3 separate regions of the Homo sapiens genome follow, and all the other regions are reported to be linked to region 3. Evidence: microRNA targets listed by miRTarBase, many of them from high-throughput screens and not tested one by one. Region 3 holds a microRNA gene; each other region holds the end of a gene's coding sequence.
The links. Region 3 holds the annotated microRNA hsa-miR-6780a-5p (UUGGGAGGGAAGACAGCUGGAGA, at 1,751-1,773, shown strand). A microRNA usually pairs through its seed, bases 2 to 8, with sites in the 3' UTR of a target mRNA and lowers its output. Matches are read on the target gene's strand: a 7mer-m8 pairs with bases 2 to 8, a 7mer-A1 pairs with bases 2 to 7 and ends in A, and an 8mer does both.

Region 1: miRTarBase lists TRMU as a target of hsa-miR-6780a-5p. The part of its 3' UTR that is shown has no 7-base or 8-base seed match.
Region 2: miRTarBase lists ACAP2 as a target of hsa-miR-6780a-5p. Seed matches in the 3' UTR shown: 7mer-m8 at 1,647-1,653.

Annotation. Positions count from the first base shown.
Region 1 is chr22:46,356,489-46,359,488 of GRCh38, reverse strand. TRMU (tRNA mitochondrial 2-thiouridylase) reads right to left here. Exons shown (of 11, transcript NM_018006.5): 11 at 2,149-2,647. The coding sequence ends at 2,483. Among named protein-coding and RNA genes, the nearest start is that of TRMU, 22 kb to the right of the region's middle.
Region 2 is chr3:195,276,492-195,279,491 of GRCh38, reverse strand. ACAP2 (ArfGAP with coiled-coil, ankyrin repeat and PH domains 2) reads left to right here. Exons shown (of 23, transcript NM_012287.6): 23 at 64-3,000. The coding sequence ends at 164. Among named protein-coding and RNA genes, the nearest start is that of XXYLT1, 6.8 kb to the right of the region's middle.
Region 3 is chr17:42,706,588-42,709,896 of GRCh38, reverse strand. It overlaps MIR6780A (microRNA 6780a), which reads left to right and starts at 1,746; the gene lies at 1,746-1,813. EZH1 (enhancer of zeste 1 polycomb repressive complex 2 subunit) reads left to right here. Exons shown (of 21, transcript NM_001991.5): 13 at 1-51; 14 at 981-1,021; 15 at 1,814-1,939.

The sequences.
Region 1 (3,000 bases), not on the chromosome of region 3:
CCTCGCCTTGGGCTCCTCAGCCTGGAGGCAAGGCTTGTTAAGACCCCCAGGAGGGTCAGGCAGTGGTCCATGTCTGTAATCCCAACAGTGGCTGGCTGAGGCGGGAGTTCCAGACCAGACTGGGCAACACAGCAGGACTCCATCTCTACAGTTTTTAAAACTTAGCACAGTGGATCATGCCTGTAGTCCCAGTGCTTTGGGAGGCTGAGGCAAGATCGCTTGAGGCCAGGAGCTCAAGACCAGCCTAGACAACATAGCAAGACTGTTTCTAAAACAAAATTAAAGTTAGCTGGGTGTGGTGGTGTATGCCTGTTGTCCCAGCTACTTGGGAGGTCAAGGCTGCAGTGAGCTGTGATCACACCACTGCGCTCCAGCCTGGGTAACAGAGCAAGACCCTGTCTCTTGAAAAGAAAAAAAAAGAAACCTCCCCAAGAAGGAAGGGGCTTGGGCCCAGGCAAGGCTCCGGCACAGGGCAACATGGGAGCCAGAGACTGGGGAGAAGGCAGGCTCAGGGTGTTTGAAACCAGCTCAGGGCCTCGGGAAGGAGCCTCCCAGGTGTGAGGTGAGGGGGCATCATCCTAGGACCCATGTATCACTGAGATTATCCGGGAACAACGTAGGGGGAGAGGAGAGCGAGGGCTTTGCTTTCATTTGTATCACAAGCAGGGAGTAGGTGTAGGTGTACAGGCACCCAGCTCTTGGCCTGGAAAATGTTCCCCCATCGTCTTCATGGATAGGTGTGGCAAGGGGCTAAGGCCAGGCCACTGGGGGTACCCTTGCAGGCAGAAGGGGCTACCTAGCTACCTGTGCTCCTGGAGGCCCCCAGGTCTTCAAGAAGTCATCTGAGGGGCACAGCCTCTGGAGTGTGCCAGCCTTGGGTGCTGGGGAGGGTAGGAAAGAGGCCAGAAGAGCAGCCTGGAGACTTGGTCCCCTGGCCAACAGTTTCTGCTGAATCTCTGAGACATCGCACCAAAGCCCTCCAGAGTTGGCCAGTGGCCTTGTAGGGGGCAGGGCAGGCCATTGTGCCTGCTAGAGAGGGGAGCCCTGCCAGTCAGGAAGCTGTCACCATGGAGCCTGGGGGCTCAAGGGGGCAGAGGCAGGTTTGTGTCCCCGCTTCCTCCACTGGCCGATGCACAGGCCCTGAGGCTGGCAGGACGGTGGAGCCCGCTGGAGGTTGGAGCGGGGGCAGCCTTAGCGCTGCTGGCCTGGTGCCCACACCACCTTCTGCCTGGCTGCCCCACCTCCCACCTACTCATGTTTCTGTGACCTGGGAGGGTTCACCTAGGGCAGAGCAGTAGGCACCACAAGGGCTCTCCCACCCTCAGTTCCCAGGCTGGAGGCCCGACCACAGCCATAAATCAGGGAACCCCTGAGCCCAGGGAGGCTCCGTGCTGGGCTGAGCTGGCAGAACAAACGCGGCGCTTTAGCTCGGCCTCCATGCCCAGCTGGGCCGAGGATCCCCAGGGGCCTGTCTGGTCCCACTGGCCAGCGCTCTGCCTGCCTGGTAGAGCTGGGGCTTGCCCCTGGCCAGGGCAGCACTGACCCCACACCCCCCACCTCCCCACCCCAGCCCAGCAAGGGCCACGGCTCCACCTTAGGCCCCGTTTCCTCACCTGGCCTGCGGGGTTCTGGCCCACTCCTCACCCTCAGGACACTCCCTGCTGCGTGGGGGCCTAGGCTAGAAGGAAGGGTGCCCCAGGTCAGGGGACACCCAGTGGGGAGATGGGAGGAGGGGTCAGGATGGACAGTGGGCCCCATGGCAGCCCCCACCCTGACGCACCAGCAAGAACTCAGGGCATCTGGGCAAGGCCCTCTGCGCACCACCTGGCTGCCTCTGGAACCTTCCCACCCAGAGAAGGGGAATGCACCTCTGGTCCCCGCAGGAACCTGTCTTGAGGCACCAACAACACGCTACGAAGGACTCAAGCCCAGCAAGAGGAAGAGAGCCAAGGACACAGGTCAGCATCGCAGGCACCTACTCTGGAGTCCAGGAGCAGGGATACGGGGGCAGAGGATGGAGCAGCTGGGACCTCAGGGAGAGGTACGCAGGTTGCCATGGCTGCGTCTGCAGTCCACCTGCCTTTCCACGCCAGGGAGTCAGTGATGTGGAGCCCCCTGGGCCCCAGTGGAAGCAGCGATCAGACTATGTGTCCTTGAAATAATGTTTATTCCACGCTGTCCCGACAGCCCCCTCTGCAGGTCCCCTCGGTGTACTCTGAGGTGGGAAACCCTCCCTGGGGGCGGTGAAGGGGAACTCGGGCCACCCCACCAGCCAGCAGATGCTCCAGCAGCCAGAGCCCCAGCCTGGAGCTGAGGCTCTTCCTGGGGCTCGCCGGGCCCCTGCAGGCTTTTCGGACCCTCAGCCAGCCCGGCTTCCTCTGCTTTGGGCAGCAGCAAGCTGGCCCTTGGGCACCTGGACTGCTCACCAGCCGCCCAGCCATGGGTCCTGCTCTCCAGGTTCCTTCTAGCAGATCCATCTCTGTCAGAGCAAGGGACTCAGGCCTGGACCATCTTCTGGGCTGTCACTGGGGCTCTCAGTGGCCATCCCAGCTCTGCGCTGGCCCTTCTGGAGCGTGTAGGCAGACGGCCCCAGCCGCAGGATCTTCCCGCTGCCCAGGCACTCGTCCCCCTTGTAGAACACAGCAAACTGTAGGGGAGAGACCCTGGCATCAGGGGTGCCACAGGGAGCCAGCCGAGGGCAGGCAGGGGCAGAGTGCTCCCCTATGGGGCCTGGCCTGTGCTCGGAGCACCAGGCACTGAGCTCCCAGGGGAGCAGGGTTTTGCTGCTGCTGCTGCTGCTGAACAGGAGAGGAGAGGCCTGGGGCACCCAGTGGCTTCACTAGGGAGGGTCTTCAGGGTACCTCTCCCTGAGTGGGACAGTCACAGGGGCCTCTCCTGGGACTCCAAGGGACTGGCAGGTCTCTGCACCCCTTGGGAATGTGGAGCTGTGACAGGAAGGAGCATGGTGGCAGCCAGAGGATGCTTCCGCTTCCCTCACCC
Region 2 (3,000 bases), not on the chromosome of region 3:
ATGAATGTTGTTTGATTAATACTTGTGTAAATGTTTAAAGTGTCTTTATTTTATTTCATGCAGGTGATGAAACTTATCAGGACATATTTCGTGATTTTTCCCAAATGGCATCCAATAATCCAGAGAAACTAAATCGTTTCCAGCAAGATTCACAGAAATTCTGAATTTTTTTAAAAATGGGAAAATATGAAATCTGGTGACCCCCTAATGTATACAGCTAAAAAATCACAATTTTTTTACTGCTTTAATTCTACTTAATTTTGGTAGATATTGAATGGCTTGGAAAAGAGGTACCCATTCATATATTTATAAATTAAAACATAGTTATCTAGTAGTAGGAGAGGAACCTAGTTTAGGACCTCTTTTATTAAAAAAGCCTATTTAAAGGGCTATTTCTGTAGACAGAAGTTCAGTCTAGATTTAGGCCATCTCTAGGTTACAAGATGATAGGAGGTTAGACAAAAGTGATTCTTTTGCCAATGGGTGGTGGCATTGATTTTTTTCCTCCATGCATCTTGCCCAGGATCACTCAGTCAAGCATGTCTTCATCAAGTGGAAGCCAACTGTCCTGCCTGCCTCAAGAATATGTGTTTTCTTTAGCTTCCCTGAGGCTTTTTGGTGGTTCAGAAATAGGTGTGTGTGTTGATGTGTTTTTGGTAACCTAGCTTTCATACACATAATATATGATTTATTAGAACTAGAGAATGTGTTTTCCCCGTTTGTTCATAAATGCGGTCGGTTATACTTCTTAGGTGACAGGTTATTGTCCAGTACTTTAATGTATGTATGTATAATGGCTGTACAGGTAGACCATAATTCAGTCCTTTAGATTTATTTTATGCAGCAAAAAGAAGCTCTTTTTTTTTTTTAATCACAAAAAAAAACCCCAGTTCAAAATGTGTAGTTCTTCATTGTTGGGTTGATTCCCCAAAACCTTGACAGATGTATCGATGGAATAAAAGTATGTTTTAAAGGTTACTTGAATGTCACAAAATTATGCCTTCATCAAAACTTTAAAGGAAAAATCAATTTATAAAATCATGTAGGCCATTTTTATATTTGAAATTTGTCCTTTTAAAGATAGTTTTGCTGTTGCTCCTAGTGAAAGAAAAATCTCTGTACAAAGGAGAAAAAGAACCCCACTTATTCTTAGTTAATACTAAAATATATAGCAATAAATTGCTGTTTATTTTTTCTACATCTATTTTGTGTACTTGTACACAGTGTACATTCTTTTAAATTATATCGTGTATATAGCTTTAGTATTCGGTTACATGATTCACAGACCCCTGAATTCCAAAATATTATGGATAAACATTACCATTTATATGCTACAAATTAGTCTGATTCCATCTTTGAAAATGTCTTAAAGTATAAAATAATTAATTTGCTTTTTTTTTTTTTTTTTCCCGAGATGGCGTCTTGCTGTGTCACCCAGGCTGGAGTGCAGTGGCACGATCTCAGCTCACTGCAGCCTCCTCCTCTTGGGTTCAAGCAATTCTCCTGCCTCAGCCTCCCGAGTAGCTGGGACTACAGGCACCCGCCACCATTCCGAGCTAATTTCTATATTTTTAGTAAAGACGGGTTTCACCATTTTGGCCAGGTTGGTCTCGAACTCCTGACCTCAGGTGATCAGCCTGCTTTAGCCTCCCAGAGTGCTGGGATTACAGGCGTGAGCCACCGCACCCAGCCTAATTTGCCTTTTGATTCCTTCCCATTGTTGTCAACAATTAAGTCTATTCTTCTTTTAGAAATTATATGTAAATGATATTATTGATACTCTTTCTAAATAAGAGGTTTTAAAATATATAAAAACTTTATGATCCAATTATAGATAAATTTTCTAACATTTCCCAGTCACTAGGGTTTTATAAGTTGATTAAACATCAAATCAGAATCTAGCCAAGCAGGAATTATATTGAAATAAGTTCACATTACAGAAAAGGTTCCATAATTTGGCCAAACTGCATGCATGTAATGCTTATTTAGTAATGGTCACTGTATGTTAGATAAGGATAAAAATATATTTGTGAATTACTTCTGAGGAAATGCTAACTTCCACAGCATTGTATTTAATTATAACAATAACAGGAACATTAAATCTTTATCTTTGCTGTTTCACCTCAAAGTCATAGATCATCTGGCTTTTTAGGCACCTTCACTAAAGGCAAAAATCTGATTTGTAGTTTTTATTAGCATGTACCTTGAAATTATTTGACCAAGAAGCTCAAAGAAAAGAAGTACGTTAAAGAAAAAGAAAAAACCTCACTTTTCCTTTATAGTGTCCCTTCCTGTTTTAATTCCTAAAGATCCTGACTTTTATCTGAGGAAGTCTAGGTAGTTTTCCTTTTGGATCTGGCCATTGGTGCGTGTTTCATTCAGATCACCTCTGGAATCTCTGTGGTTGTGAAGGCAATTCCTTATGAGACTCTTGCCTCCTGTGGCTTACGTGATGAATTGTTAATATGGCAGTAATTAATTAGTATCTACTTAAATTTAGTGGTCAGAAATGTATTTGAAGTGCCTTAAAGATGATCATGGTTCAGAATATCTTCAGAGAAAGCAAAATCTTTAATATTGCAGGGAGCCTAGCAATACAAGTACACATTTCTGTGGCTTGATTTCTTGAATATGCTGAGACCCAATTTGGACTACATTTGGCAGAAATGATGGAGTAAACAGCAAGGCTTTAAATTAAATTAATAGTTACAAGGTAGGTTGGCTCTTAGGTGAATTTAGCCATGTCAACTAATAGCTTTTATATGGTATGTAACAAATCTGAATTATGTTATGCTGTGAATTATTCAGTGCATTATAAGAAATCTTAGTTAATCATGCTTTTGGGCTTCATTAGTCAATGTGATTGGCCTTTTATTTTCTTTCCATAACTTATCTGCTATTATTAGTTTCTTATTCCTTATTATTAATCTGTTAGCTCATTATCATTAGCTTACTAACTTGAAAGTTAGATTAATATCAAAATAAGAATAGCAGCACTAT
Region 3 (3,309 bases):
GCCAACAGATGAGCTCATGAACCCCTCACAGAAGAAGAAAAGAAAGCACAGGCAAGAAGGGTTGGACAAAGTGTTTTGTTTTACAGCCAGGCTGTTCCCTGTGCTCTGACCTCCCCTTGGAGTTCCCATCTGCCTCCCTCTTTAGCAACCGCACAGGCTGTGTGAGCCCATCAGCTTGGCATCACATGACTGAGAGCCAGCCTCCTGAGTGCTCCCTGAGGGTCTGTGCCTTAGATCAGCCCTCTTCTTGTCCCCCAGTGCTGTGGACCATAACTGTCTGTTTTTCTATTTAAGCTTCTGGCCAATAGGACATGAGCTGGCCTCATGGCTCCACCCTGAAGCCATTTCTCCTTGTTGGTTTTGTTACCACCTTACCCATTTCTCAACTCTGATCAGAGTTTATTTATTTGTTTGGTTTGTGTTGTTTTTCTGAGTTACATGATAGCCTTTACTTAGGTTGGAAGTTTTTAAAAAAATTCTGCACCCTGGCCCTGTTCCCTAGTGACTATCACCTATCAGAGGAAGGAGCTGACACCACTTCTAGATACAGAAGGAAATCCCTGTGGCTCCTCCCTTTCAGTTCTTTCAGAGAAGATTCCTGAAAGGCCTTCCCACCTCCCCATCTTGAAACTCCCCCATATCTCCACCTCCACAAAGACAAAGGGAGAGATTTGGAGAGAAACAATAGCTTTATAATAGACCAATAGGCTTGGGCTTTCTTTTATTTCTGTGTTGTGTTCTTTTATGTTATTTGCTTGTTTGGGAGGGGTTGTGTTTAAGTTTAACTCTTGTAGCACAGGCCAGCTGGATTTAGGATGGACTCTAGCTTCTGTGTACCAAAGTCGTCCTGTTGAGGGGTTTGGGAAGATACTCCCCAGTCATCAAACACAGTCCCTCAGAGCAAGTCACGTTGTCATTTACCTGCATTTGCAGAGCTCCCTAGGGCCGTGACTGAGACCTGTCCTTCCTGTCTTTTTCAGATTGTGGGCTGCACACTGCAGGAAGATTCAGCTGAAGAAAGGTAAGTTCTACCAGGGCATTCTTCAGCAGTTCAGCTGGAGGCCTCACTCTGTGGTCATCACCCTACCCCACCTCCAGCTGCACTTGTTGACCCTGTGCCACTTCCGCAGATTGCAGAATTCTCTGCAGCAACTGAGAACAGCTGAGCCTCTCACTGCAACTGAGAAGACCTCTTAGGAGGTAACATTAAGGGCCTTGTGGTCTGTGATTTTTCTTTTTTTTGAGATGGAGCCTCGCTCTGTCACCCAGGCTGGAGTGCAGTGGCACAATCTTGGCTCACTGCAACCTCCGCCTCCCGGGTTCAAGCAATTCTCCTGCCTCAGCTTCCCAAGTAGCTGGGATTACAGGCATGTACCACCATGCCTGGCTAATTTTTGTATTTTTAGTAGAGACGGGGTTTCACCATGTTGGCCAGGCTGGTCTCGAACTCCTGACCTCAAATGATCCACCTGCCTCGGCCTCGCAAAGTGCTGGGATTACAGGCGTGAGCCACTGTGCCTGGCCAGTATGTGACTTTTCTAGTGTGCCATTTGCTAGGTTCCAGACCTCATTTAATGTTTAGAATAGCTTCCCTGTTGTCCCAGACCATCTCCACACCCTCCCCACAAAGCAGATCACCCCACTGCAGCTTATGAACAACGGTCATCCCTGTCTTCTCACTTCAGGTGCTAAATGTGTGTCCAAGGAGATTGTTAGGACCAGCCTCCTCTGAATCAGGGCAGCTGGACACTTGGGAGGGAAGACAGCTGGAGAGTATGGTCACAGCAGCATCCTCCTCTGTTTTCTTTCCTAGATAACTCTTCCACACAAGTGTACAACTACCAACCCTGCGACCACCCAGACCGCCCCTGTGACAGCACCTGCCCCTGCATCATGACTCAGAATTTCTGTGAGAAGTTCTGCCAGTGCAACCCAGACTGTAAGTGTGCTACGTTTTCTGTATAGTCTACCAAAACAGTTGGCTCCAGTGTGCCCTAGGCTTGCCCCATTCCTGTGCCCTTTACTGCTTATGGCCTTCTGATATCCCCTTTGCTGTGTTTTAGGGATTCTACAAATGAAATAAGTGCATGAGATCTGGGAGAGTCGTTTCTGGAAAACGTTTAGGTTCATGATTCTAAAAGCAGCAATTACACAGAAATCAGATACTTTCCCAACTTTGTCTTCTAGGGGAGAATTAAGAAATGTGGGGGGCAGCAGGCGCAGTCACTCACGCCTGTAATCCCAGCACTTTGGGTAGGCGGATCACTTGAGGTCAGGAGTTCAAGACCAGCGTGGCCAACTTGGCGAAACCTCATCTCTACTAAAAATAAAAAAATTAGGCCAGGTGTGGTGGCTCACGCCTATAATCCCAGCACTTGGAAGGCCAAGTCGGGCAGATCACTTAAGGTCAGGACTCAAGACCAGCCTGGCCAACATGGTGAACCCCGTCTCTACTAAGAATACAAAAATTAGCCAGACATGGTGGTACATGCTTGTAGTCCCAGCTACTTGGGAGGCTGAGGCACAAGAACTGCTTGAACCCAGAGGGCAGAGGCTGCCAGTGAGCCAAGATTGTGCCACTGCACTCCAGCCTGGGCAACAGAGCAAGACTCTGTCTCAAAAAGAAAAGAAATGTGGGACTCTTTTTTTTTTTTTTAAGTTACAGCCCCAGTTTCCCTTTTCTGAATACTGTTTTAAAAAATTTTTTATTCAGATATTTTTTGTTTGTGATTCTGTGTATGTCTATTTTCATTTCATAGCTGGAGTTTTAATATCAGGTAGAAGACAGGGGCCTGGATGTCAGCAGAGACATCCGGGTACTTATCTTTTACTTCTTATCCCACCATGCCCTTCCCAACTCAAAGCTGAGCAGTTTGATGGCAGTCCCCACAGCTTGCAGAACTTGGTGCCCAGGCGGTTTTGCTGGAGGAAATACCTCCTAACCCATAGCAGATAGTGATCTTAGCCGCAGCAGAGAAGTGGTTGCGCTGGGTTGGGCAGTGGGTGGAGAAGGATGGCATAGAACGGATGCATTCTGTTCTCAAAATGATACTTGTTTTGATGGTGACAATTTACCAGTGAAACACACTGATTTCATATTCTCTGGGGTACTCTCCACCTCAGTGGGAGGGAGAGGATTGTTGGGGAATCTCTAGGGGACACTTCTTATTAGTATACCTGCTTTTTTTTTCATTTTTTAAATTTTTTTGAGACAGGATCTCAGCTCTGTTGCTCAGGCTGGAGAGAAGTGGCACAATTATGGCTCACTGCAGCCTCAACCTCCCTGGCTCAAGCCATTCATCCCCCTAC